Homo sapiens: one gene and its partners. The protein of the gene in region 1 purifies or fractionates together with the protein of each later gene. This does not show direct contact. Each region holds a gene or a part of one and is shown on either strand. Other genes may lie near its edges.

The links.
Region 2: the proteins of TRHDE (region 1) and TMTC3 purify together in Homo sapiens (affinity purification with mass spectrometry; one large-scale study listed by BioGRID and IntAct). This does not show direct contact.
Region 3: the proteins of TRHDE (region 1) and KIRREL1 purify together in Homo sapiens (affinity purification with mass spectrometry; one large-scale study listed by BioGRID and IntAct). This does not show direct contact.

Annotation. Positions count from the first base shown.
Region 1 is NC_000012.12:72,275,289-72,278,944, forward strand, and holds part of TRHDE (thyrotropin-releasing hormone-degrading ectoenzyme), read left to right. Parts: intron 1-3,656. UniProt on the Homo sapiens protein: Specific inactivation of TRH after its release.
Region 2 is NC_000012.12:88,190,758-88,194,413, reverse strand, and holds part of TMTC3 (protein O-mannosyl-transferase TMTC3), read right to left. Parts: intron 1,811-3,656; coding exon 1,584-1,810; intron 1-1,583. UniProt on the Homo sapiens protein: Transfers mannosyl residues to the hydroxyl group of serine or threonine residues.
Region 3 is NC_000001.11:158,084,046-158,087,701, forward strand, and holds part of KIRREL1 (kin of IRRE-like protein 1 isoform 1 precursor), read left to right. Parts: intron 1-376; coding exon 377-534; intron 535-2,550; coding exon 2,551-2,701; intron 2,702-3,656. UniProt on the Homo sapiens protein: Required for proper function of the glomerular filtration barrier. It is involved in the maintenance of a stable podocyte architecture with interdigitating foot processes connected by specialized cell-cell junctions, known as the slit diaphragm.

The DNA of each region.
Region 1 (3,656 bases):
ATTATTTATAGAGTTCTATGAAGTAACCTCCTATAAATAAAATGCCCAATGCTTTAGTAGCTGTATGATAGTTAAAACCTCCTATAAGTGAATGTATAAATTATTCACTTTCTTACTCCTGACATTAGATATGGATATTTTAAACCCCCTTCTACCACTTCCTCCAACATGTTCTAAAGAATACAGATTAAAAATATTTTTTAAACCCAGAATTATGTCAAATACGGGGGAAAGGCATAGAAAACAAATTTGCATACTATGTTTAGGAACAAGCTTCTTAGGTCAAAATGTCAATAGTGGGAGTTGCATATCATTACTGATACATCTTGCTGCAGTGAAATAAATGCTTTTGAAAAATCCTGTTTTTTGAGCCATGCCAAAATATGTTTGGCAGAACTGAGCTTGTTTTGGTCAATGCTTTCAAATTAACAGGACTCTTAAAAAGACCAGATGTTTCTGCTTGAACCGTAACTGATTTCTTGTACCCCTAGTGCGTATTTGTACTCAAACTCTCTTGCAGTTTTCCCCAAAGAAGTAAACAACTTGGTTGGAAGTTCAACCTAGTTAACATATAGTTAAACTCTTCATCCCAATAGAAATGCAGAACTCAGTGTTCTGAAAATCCCAGGATTGTTTTATTTCTAAACAGCATCTTAGAGAAAGTCCTTGTTCTTCATTTTTTTTTCCTTCCTCATTATTATTATTAGAGTAAATCTTATAATTTCTTGGATGTTTCTACTGGAGTTGATAAGACAAAAGAAATAAATCTAATAAACCATTTCATAGTTATGCAAACTTTCTATTTATTAAACATTTTTTGTTACTATAGCCACTTGGAGCATGGAGCATTTTTAAACAGACCCATATCAGCATCTCAGCTAGGGTTGGACTTTTATGTTGTCCACAAAATGCAATGTAAATTGGCATTTTAAAACCCACTTTCAAATAGGACGCAGATGCAAGCACTGAATTTTCATTTGATTAATGATTAAACATTTTGGTTTTTAGTTAGATATAATTTTGCCAATTTAATTATAGGGTAATGTCTGTAATAAAAACAAATATGTAATCTGATAAAGGAAGTCATATTGAGCAACTTGAAATGCTTAAAACAGCAATACTACAGTGCAGTCCACTTCTCTTAGCCTATGTGGAAACACTAACTCATTAAAATCCTATCAGTCTGATTCTTCAACTTGCTTCTCAGAGACCTGAGCAAAAGAATTTTGGTGACGGCAGGGAAATTAGATTCTACTGTGTGCTATATACCTTGGACCCCTGGAAGGTTTTACCCACCTCTGGGTGTTGTAAGTAGCCTGGCTTTGTACAACTGGGAAGACTTGCTTTTCCTGATTTCCATACTGTAATGTACAAAGGTTAGAAGACGAGCTCCCTCTTGAAGCCCAAGTTTTCCCAAGTTGAGACAAATTCTCTACTCTTGGTTACTACAGTTGTTGAACATTGAAAATAAATTCTCCTAAAATCCACATGTCTACACACCAATAAGTAAATTAGGCAGAATACATACTCACTTTTTCATCAACTAGGTGTGCAGCAGGCAGATAAAAATGGGTGTGTATTTATGCTGTAGTCTCCGACAAAAGAGTATGCTTGCTTAGAATTAGGTAAAATGTCCGTTTACCTGAAATAATTGCCACTTTTGGGTAGCCAGATGGTGAGCGCACCCGTGTTCAAAGTAGGGTACCTTAATTTAGATCCAGATGGTTGAATTGAAAGGGAAATATAGCCAAGATAAAGAACATTTTGTTCACTTTCAAAAGGGAGACTGTTTTTCTTTGACAAACTTTAATAGGGTCTATAACATGCCAAAGTGAGACGACATTAAAAATATGAGGTCCTTTTCTATAAAGGATTGTTTAGAGAGAAACTATAGTCTCCAAGTAAAATGGGAAAATAATAGTGGTAGTTCTCAAAGAGAATTGGGACCATCCTTTTGCAAAAATCTTGGGGAGAGAATGGAGGATTTTATCTCTGGGTAGGCATTTGCTCTACTGTGGTATTTGTGTGATCTGATGCCTTGTAATTTACTCAGAATGAATTAATACTCATGGTATTTAATACAAACAAGAAATTCACTACATTATTTTTAGATCGAAAGCAACTTCATTTCTCCCATTCACTTCGGTAAGAAGATAGCTTAACATGAGCAAGTAGGAGTATATTGCTTTTTGTCCCTCTATAGAGGACTGTGAACTGAAAAAAATCTTTGAGAACCATTTGTTTCTGTAAAAACTTTTTTCTGTGATTCCTTAATGGACTTAGCTCATTGTTTTTGTGTCAGGCTCACATAACCATATGGCAAAACTGAGTTCAGTGCTGGATTTTGAACACAATTCAAAATGCCACCAGTAAACCGTATCTAGACAATGTTTACTAAAAAAAAAGCTCTGACCATGTAATAATGACTCACTCAGGGAGAAAATCTATGCAATTGGTGTTTGTCTTTCTGTGTTTCCTGTAGTGCCATTTGATTTGATCACCCTGGATAATAATTAAATATACAGTTTTTTCAAATTAATTGACATAAAATTGTGTATATTTATCTTGTATAATCTAATGTTTTGAAGTATGCATACATTTGGAACAAATGTAGTTAATTAACAAATGCATCATCTCATATAGCTATTTTTGTGGTGAGAATGTTTAACATCTACTCTCAGCAGTTTTCAAGAATATAATATATTGTCATTAATTATAGTCACCTTGCTTTACAATAAGTCCCTTGAACTTATTCCTTTTTTCTAAGTAATTATATATCCTTTGACCAGTAACTCCTCAACTCCATTCTTCCCCTAACCTCTTATTATCTGGTAAACATTATTCTACTCTCTAATTCAGTGAGGTCAACTTTTTTAGTTTCCACATATTACTGAGATCATGCAATATTTGTCTTTTTGTGCCTGGCTTATTCACTTACATGAAGTCTTCCAGTTCATCCATGTTGTCTCAAATGACAGGATTTCCTTCTGTTTATGGCTGAATGGTATTTCATTAGTGTATGTATACATTTTCTTTATCCATCCATTCATTGATGAACTCTTAGGTTGGTTCTGTATCTCGGCTACTGTGAATAATGCTGCAATAAACATGTTGCAGATATCTCCTCAACATGATGATTTCTTTTTCTTTGGATATATAATCCACCAGTAGTGGGATTGCCAGATCATATGGTAGTTCTATTTTTAATTTTTTGATGAACCTCCATACTGTTTTCCATAATGGCTGTACTAATTTATAGTGTACTCATTTTCACCAACAGTGTACAAGGGTTCTTTTTGCTGCACATCCTTGCTAACAGTTGTTATCTTTTGTCTATTTGATAATAGCCATTCTTACAGGTGTGAGTTGACATCTCACTGTGGTTGCATTTCCCTGATGATAAGTCATGTTGAACATTTTTCATATACCGGTTGGCCATTTGTATGTCTTATTTTGAGAAATTTTCATTCAGGTCTTTTGCCCACTTTAAAAAATCAGATTTTGTTTTTTCTTGCTATTGAGTTGTTTGATTTCATTATATGTTTTGGTCATTAATCACTTATCAGATGTACAGACTGCGAATATTTTCTCCCATTCTATAGGTTGTCTTTTTACTTTACTGTTTATTGTCTTTGCTGTGCAGAAACATTTTAGTT
Region 2 (3,656 bases), about 16 Mb from region 1:
TTGTATGTTGTATATCGAAAAAATGTTCAGCAAATAGTAACTATTACTGGGTAGAAAAAAGCTTCAGAATGACTGTATCACATTTTAAAAAATGTTACTTCAAAGTTTTAGGAATGTTTCGAGGACAAAAACATACCATTAAATATAGGGCTATAAAATTAGGATTTAGGAAACATGTATCTTCTTTTTTTTGAGACAGGGTCTCACTATGTCACTCAGGCTGGAGGGCAGTGCTGTGTCCACAGGTCACTGTAACCTCAAACTCCTGGGCTCAAGCAATCCTCCCACCTTGGCTTCCCGAGTAGCTGGGACTACAGGCATGTGCCATCATTTCTTGCTGATTTTAAAATTTTTTGTGGAGACAGAGTTTTACTATGTTGCCTAGGCTATTCTCAAACTCTTGGCCTCTAGTGATCCTCCCCACCCTGGCCTCCCTAAGTGTTAGGATTACAGGCATCAGCCACTGCCTGGCAGGAAACAAATCTCCATTGAGATAATTTCTATTGCAAAAAAAAAGCCAAAAAAACAAAAAAGTTCAAGTTCTACAATTACAAACCTTATAGTACAATCTTGTGTCGAATAATGAGCATCCTTCATGATTATCAAGGTAGAAAACCTTACAAAAATATTAGCTTTTCTCCAAATTTCTACTTTTTTGGACACCAGGCATAAAGACTTCTCTCTATTCTTTTATTTGGCAGCACGATGGATAAAGAAAATTTGAAAATAAATCAGGAGGCTTCAGTTCTTGTCTTGGGTTACCTATTTAGCCATATGACTTTGGGGCAGTCATAAAATCTATTTGGTTTTCACTCTACTAAATAGAAGACTGGCAAATGCAAACTCAAAGGTCCTCTTTAGCTCTAAAATACTACGACTTTATGATTCTTTCATATTTTACAAAAGTTTTACGAAATGTATCTAAGAAATAACTAAACATTATAATAGATTTTTCTAATTTATAAATTAAAAAGATTATAAATCATATACACTATCTTATGAGGCAGAACTGAAATTCCTATATAAAATATGGATGAAGGATCCAGATTTACTGTGGTTAATAATTTAGTTTTGCTAAATTATAGGAAATATAAAAAATTACAACATCTCAGAAAACGTAGTAAAACTGGATATAAAATGGTGCCAAAAGTATTTGCTCTTATGAATCAAAAGAAAATAAAATGCTATTTTTTTGAAAACATATGCTCTTGGCTCCTCACAGCCAATTATGTAAAAAATTTCACAAGTTCATATTATTTGGAGAGTTTATATATAAGTTACATTATGTTTATGTATATAAAATGACAAAATAGTTAATGTTGCTTAATAGACTGCCTGAAAAATTAGTCTTAACACATGCCAGAAGAATTAAAAATCAGTATTATCATATGTTAGAATGCATGTTACTTGAAAATAGTTTACTTCAAGTATTTTAAATATTCTTTCTATAAATCAGTTAAGCACAGTATTGCTATAAACTGTCAATACATAAAGTGTTTGCTATGGGTAATAAAGTTAAATTAAGGTCTTATTATATTATAAACTACAATTTATATAAACAGAAATATTTTGAGAAAACATACCTGATTCTTGCATTACTATAGCAGAGTTGAATAATGCTAGTTTATGCTTTGGATTTAGTTCCAGAGCACGATTAAAGTTTTTTAGGGCTTCATTTGGTTCTTTAAGTTCAATATGTACAATTGCCAAGTTGTACCAAAGATCTGCATTATTTCTGTCCAGCTCTAGTGCTTTAAGATATGCTTCCTTTGCTTTAAGAGGTTTATTCATTTTTAAAAGCAATTCTCCTCTGTGGAAAAATCAAACACAAGCTTTACTTACAACATTACCATCTCAGTTTGTAGATACAATTTTTGCCAAGTTTTAAGCCTTTCCACATACAGCTTTTTTTTCTCTTAACTCAGACTCTTAAAAAACTCTCTTTCGAAAACAACTCTTTGAAACTGTCCTCAAATCTGAACTCCTTAGTTCAGTATATTTGGCTTGATATATTTTCAAATATTATTTAAGAAGAAAAAAATTATGCCTGATTTCAGAGGGCAACCTATCAGGAGGAATCCAGGAAGGAGGACAGAGCAAATATATTCTTTGACTTTATCTTAAAAAGGAGACAGACTAAACTGCATCAGAAAAAGGGCAGCTAGCCAGAGTGAAAGATTAATGAATTTGTCAGGTGACAAAATAACAGCATTAGAAGAAAAAAATGACATATAGTAGTGGTAAGAGAAATTCCAATATTTGAATGTATAATAGAAGGCTCACTATGCAAAAAACCAAAATATTAAAAATCTGTAACCCCTTCTTATATTAATTTAGTCCTCATCAATGTCTTCTTATAATACGACCATTCTTAAAAAAAAAAAAGAAAAAAAAAAAAAGAAAAATGCTGGGCATGGTGGCTCGTTCCTGTAATCCCAGCACTTTGGGAGGCTGAGGTGGGCAGATCACTTGAGGTCAGGAGTTGGAGACCAGCTGACCAACATGGCAAAACTCTGTCTCTACTAAAAATACAGAAATTTGCCAGGCATGGTGGCACGCGCCTGTAGTCCCAGCTAATAGTGAGGCTGAGGAACAAGAATTACTTGAACCCAGGAGGCAGAGGTAGCAGTTAGCCGAGATCACACCACTGCACTCCAGCCTGGGTAACAATGTGAGACTCTGTCACAAACAAACAAACAAACAGAAAAAGGACTAAAAAAAAGCTGAACAGGTAGAGTGGGAGGGATTAATCTGACCTGTAGATAACTTTGAGGAACACACTTAGAATTGAGGACCAGTTAAGAAACCATTGTATAAATCTTTCTAGTGTGGTTCTATTTTCTGTTAGAAAATTTTAAAAAGTAATTTTGCTTAAAGAATTATTTTTACATATGTACAAATAATATTTAAGTAGTGATATGAGAGTTGTTCTTATAATACTACTCTTTCCTATAGTATCAGCACAGAAATAAAAGGAACAACAATTAATATTCTCATTAAAACCACTTCTAGAATGAATGTTTGTCCAAAATATTATTTTTTTAATGTAGAGATTGTTGAATAGTTCTTTATGAATTAATACATGACAGGTGTTATTTATAGATACAACCCTGCTAATAAACTCAATAGGCACGGCGGAACAAAGAAAACCCCAACTTACAAACAGATTTTATCTCAAAAACTTAAATTCAGAATGTACTTTCCCCAAAGGAAAAAATGTTACAAATTACTATTAGTTTTCTGGACCAGGCTACAAAACGAAGTTTAAAAACACATTTTTCCTCAAAAGTAATACAAATGATAACACATACATGAGAAAATAAATGAAGTTTTAACATGTGGTGCCAGAAAACTTTTTTTTTTGCTGAGAACCAAGATGTTTTCTTTGTGTCAAAGGCATCAATAACCAATCAACTCTAAAAACAAGAAAGTTCCTGAGAGTTTGATATTAGAAGTAACTATTATAAAATGTAAGTTTCAAGTTTTAATTTAAATAGGAAAAGAACAATTTTGGTGATGGGAAGAAAATGCAACTAAGACAGAGCTGCTTCTACCCTTTCCTTAATACAAAACCTAAGTTGGCTATTACAAGTTAGGGATTCCCCTTGTTAATTTCAAATCAATAAAATCTGACTGTCAGTCTAAAAAGTTATGCT
Region 3 (3,656 bases), on another chromosome or scaffold:
CTTGAACCCAGGAGGTGGAGGTTACAGTGAGCTGAGATGGCACCACTGCACTCCAGCCTGGGCGACAGAGTGACACTCCATCTCAAAAACAAACAAACAAACAAACAATAAACCAGTAGGGGCATGGAGTACCAGAAAATATTATAGGCCAGGAAAGAAAAGCAGACAAGGACTGGGAAAGATGTGTGAGCTGAGGACCTAGAGGAAGCCACCACAAGAGCAATGAAGACAGTGGTTGTAGATTAGGGGGTAGGGTGGTACCGCCTACCTAGAGGCGCACATGCAGGTGGAAGGATGCTTCCAGAGGCAGGAGTTTTGGTCTTCAGGGAAGTGTTAGCCACACCCTGCACTGACTTTGCTCTGCTTTCTCCCACAGTCCCCCCAGAGGACACCAGGATTGACGGAGGCCCTGTGATTCTACTGCAGGCAGGCACCCCCCACAACCTCACATGCCGGGCCTTCAATGCGAAGCCTGCTGCCACCATCATCTGGTTCCGGGACGGGACGCAGCAGGAGGGCGCTGTGGCCAGCACGGTGAGCTCCAGCCAGCTCCCCCAGCTCCTCCTGGGCCTAGCCCAGCTCACCTCTCCTTTCCCACAGGGGTTTCACCACAGACTCAGGAGCACACAGACATGAGAGGGGTCTTAGAGGTCATCTGGTTCAACCCTCTCATTCTACAGTTGGGAAAATTGAAACCCAGAGAAGAGAAATGAATTCCTAGGTTTACTGTGTCATTCAGTAGCTGAACAGAGACTAATAGTAATAATAAGTTGCCATGGATTAAGCACCTACTGTGTGCCAGACACCGTGCATGCTAAACACTTTATGGACAGTCTCTCTTAATCTTCATAGGAGTCCCATAAAGGAGGCATTATTTCCAACTCACAAAGGAGGAAACTTGCGCTCAGAGAGGTTGAGTGACTTGTCCAAGGTCACACAGCTGGCACAGAGCGGGGGTTTGTACCTGGGTCTGACTGTGCTTTCTCTCCACTGATCACTTCTACCTCTTTCCTTCAGCGTCTGGTTGTCAGATTATTCCAGTCATCACAACAAAGAGGCTGGGGAAGCAGAGATCCTTGTATACATTTTATAGATGAGGAAGCCATGAAAGATATCAAGTGACTTGCCCAGGATTACATAGCAAAGCGGACAGTACAGCTGGAATTCAAAGCCAGATTTCCTGGTTGGGGTTACCCTGCCAGTTGTGGGTAAACATATGTGTATTCAGCCCTTTGCTGGTGCTGCAGGAGCACTTCTCAGTGTGGAGACAGAGATGTTCCCATGCTCCTCAGCAAGCAATCCCAGGAATACCTGGCTTCTGGCTTCAGTTCTGCCCTTAACACACTGTGTGACCTTGGATAATTCGCTTCACTTTTTTCTGGCCTTAGTTTCTCATTTGACAAATGATAATTCAGCCTCAGTGGTACTTAACCTTTTCACAACCAAAAACTGTGATTTTTCTTCATCAGGGCTACATGTTTTTAGATATTTTGGCAACCAAACAAGTTGGTTTGTTAATATCCATTTGTCATCTACCCCCATTTTTCATATTCATTAAAGACAATGGAGCTTCAAAGCAGCACAAGGGAGCCAGTGTTATTGCACTGGCCCTCAACTGGGCCTGTCCAGCAAAGCTGCATGCATGGTGGTCAAACAACGGGGTCTTACTTTGATTAATAATATGGCTTCCCTCAGGCAGTTTGCAATATAGAAAACAGATCAAGGGTTCCTGTGACCATATTTAGGGACCCCTGGCTGTCACTGAGCAAGTGTAAGACTTCGAGCCTGTGAGTCCCTTCCCTGCCCTCAAGGAGTTTACAGTTTAGCAGAAGAAACCCAACCCTGAAACACGCACACATGGTGCCTACAAGCAAGGTTGGATGTGTCTAGAGCTGTGAGCAGGACACACTGACTATAAGGGCATAAATTCAGTCTGGGAGAGAGTTCTGAGGGCTGGGCTGGCTGAAGAAGGCTTTCCAGAAGAGAAGGGATTTGCGCTGGACTCACAAAGAGTGAACTCTAATATAAACTGTGGCCTTAATAATAATATATTAGTTTCGGTCCATCAGTTGTAACAGACTTATCACTCTAATGCAAGGTGTTAAGGTGTTAGTAATGGGGGAAAGTGTAAGGTCGGGGAGGAGGGTATATGGAAACTCCCTGTACTTTCTGCTCAATTTTTCTGTAAACTTAAAACTGCTCCAAAAGATAGTCTGTGATGTGGGCATGATGGCACACTCCTGTAGTCGCTGCTACTCAGAAGGCTCAGGCAGGAGGATTGCTTGAGTCCAAGCTTTGGAGGCCAGCCTGGGCAACATAGCAAGACCCTAAAAATATATAACTTTTAATTAAAAGATAATTAGTAGTCTATTGATTAAACACACACACACACACACACACACACAAGGGAAGAGGTTGTGGGAGTGAAGGGGATTGAGCTTTAAGTTAAAGTACCCCTCCAGCCCAAGCCCATCTCTGAGTGAGGTCAACTTAAGAGCAGAGGAGGGGGCTTTTAGCTTAACCATATCTCCCACCCTTGTCATGTTCCAGGAATTGCTGAAGGATGGGAAGAGGGAGACCACCGTGAGCCAACTGCTTATTAACCCCACGGACCTGGACATAGGGCGTGTCTTCACTTGCCGAAGCATGAACGAAGCCATCCCTAGTGGCAAGGAGACTTCCATCGAGCTGGATGTGCACCGTGAGTGGGCTGGGGGGAGCAGTCTGGAGCAGGGGGGTGGAAGAAGGGGTGTGTTTGAGAAGCACACTCTTAGTTTGAGAAACACAAACTAAGAGTCCCCCTATGGTCCCCAGGACAAACGCTTGCCTTCTTCACATCTTTCATTCCCTGGATTGAACCATGGGGACTAAGGGCTGGTAGAGCATTGGCTGTGGAGTCAGGCAGTCCCCAGGTCTAAACCAGCCTGTTATTAGTCAATGGTTTACACTCTCTGGGCCTCGGTTTCCAGTTCTGTATACTGTATATTGCAAAAGATAAAATACTGGCCTACAGTCCCTTATTCAAACTAAAAGTGGTTCGATGGTGCAGCCTGAACCAAGGCTCTTCATAGTCTTTTATTTAATTTAGTCTTAAGTTTCACTGCAGATGTATTCATATGTGTGACTATGGGATGTGGCCCAGATGCTGCTGGGGATCTTACACAGTAAACGCTCTATGCACAACCATTGCCTTTCTAAATGTGAAAAATTCTAAATTCTGAAATGCATCTAGTCCTAAGGGTTTCAAATAAGGGATTGTGGACCTGGACCTGCTTCCTGGGGTTGTGAGCATTAAATGAGATATAGCAGAAGAGCATCTAGCATGGAGTATTCTTACCTGGTAGGTGTGTAATAAATTGTCTCTCCCCAGGGAACCATGGGGGTGTGGGCAGCAACTGGGGATGCCCACACCCCATCCTTTTTAGTGAGCCAAGCAAGCTCACACTGACGCCTAGTGGCCACAGTGGGTCATTAGTCCATTGAGTTATTTGTCCCTTTGGTGCCTTCATTGGTGGTCACCCTAGCAGGCCCCCTAGAGGCTCCATGTGCAAAAGGTGAGGAAGACAGTGTGTTAACTGGAGCCGATACACTGCAACCTCAAATTCCTAGATCCCCGCCAGAGTGGTCAGGTCTGAATGTACGTGTTAGGGAGGGAA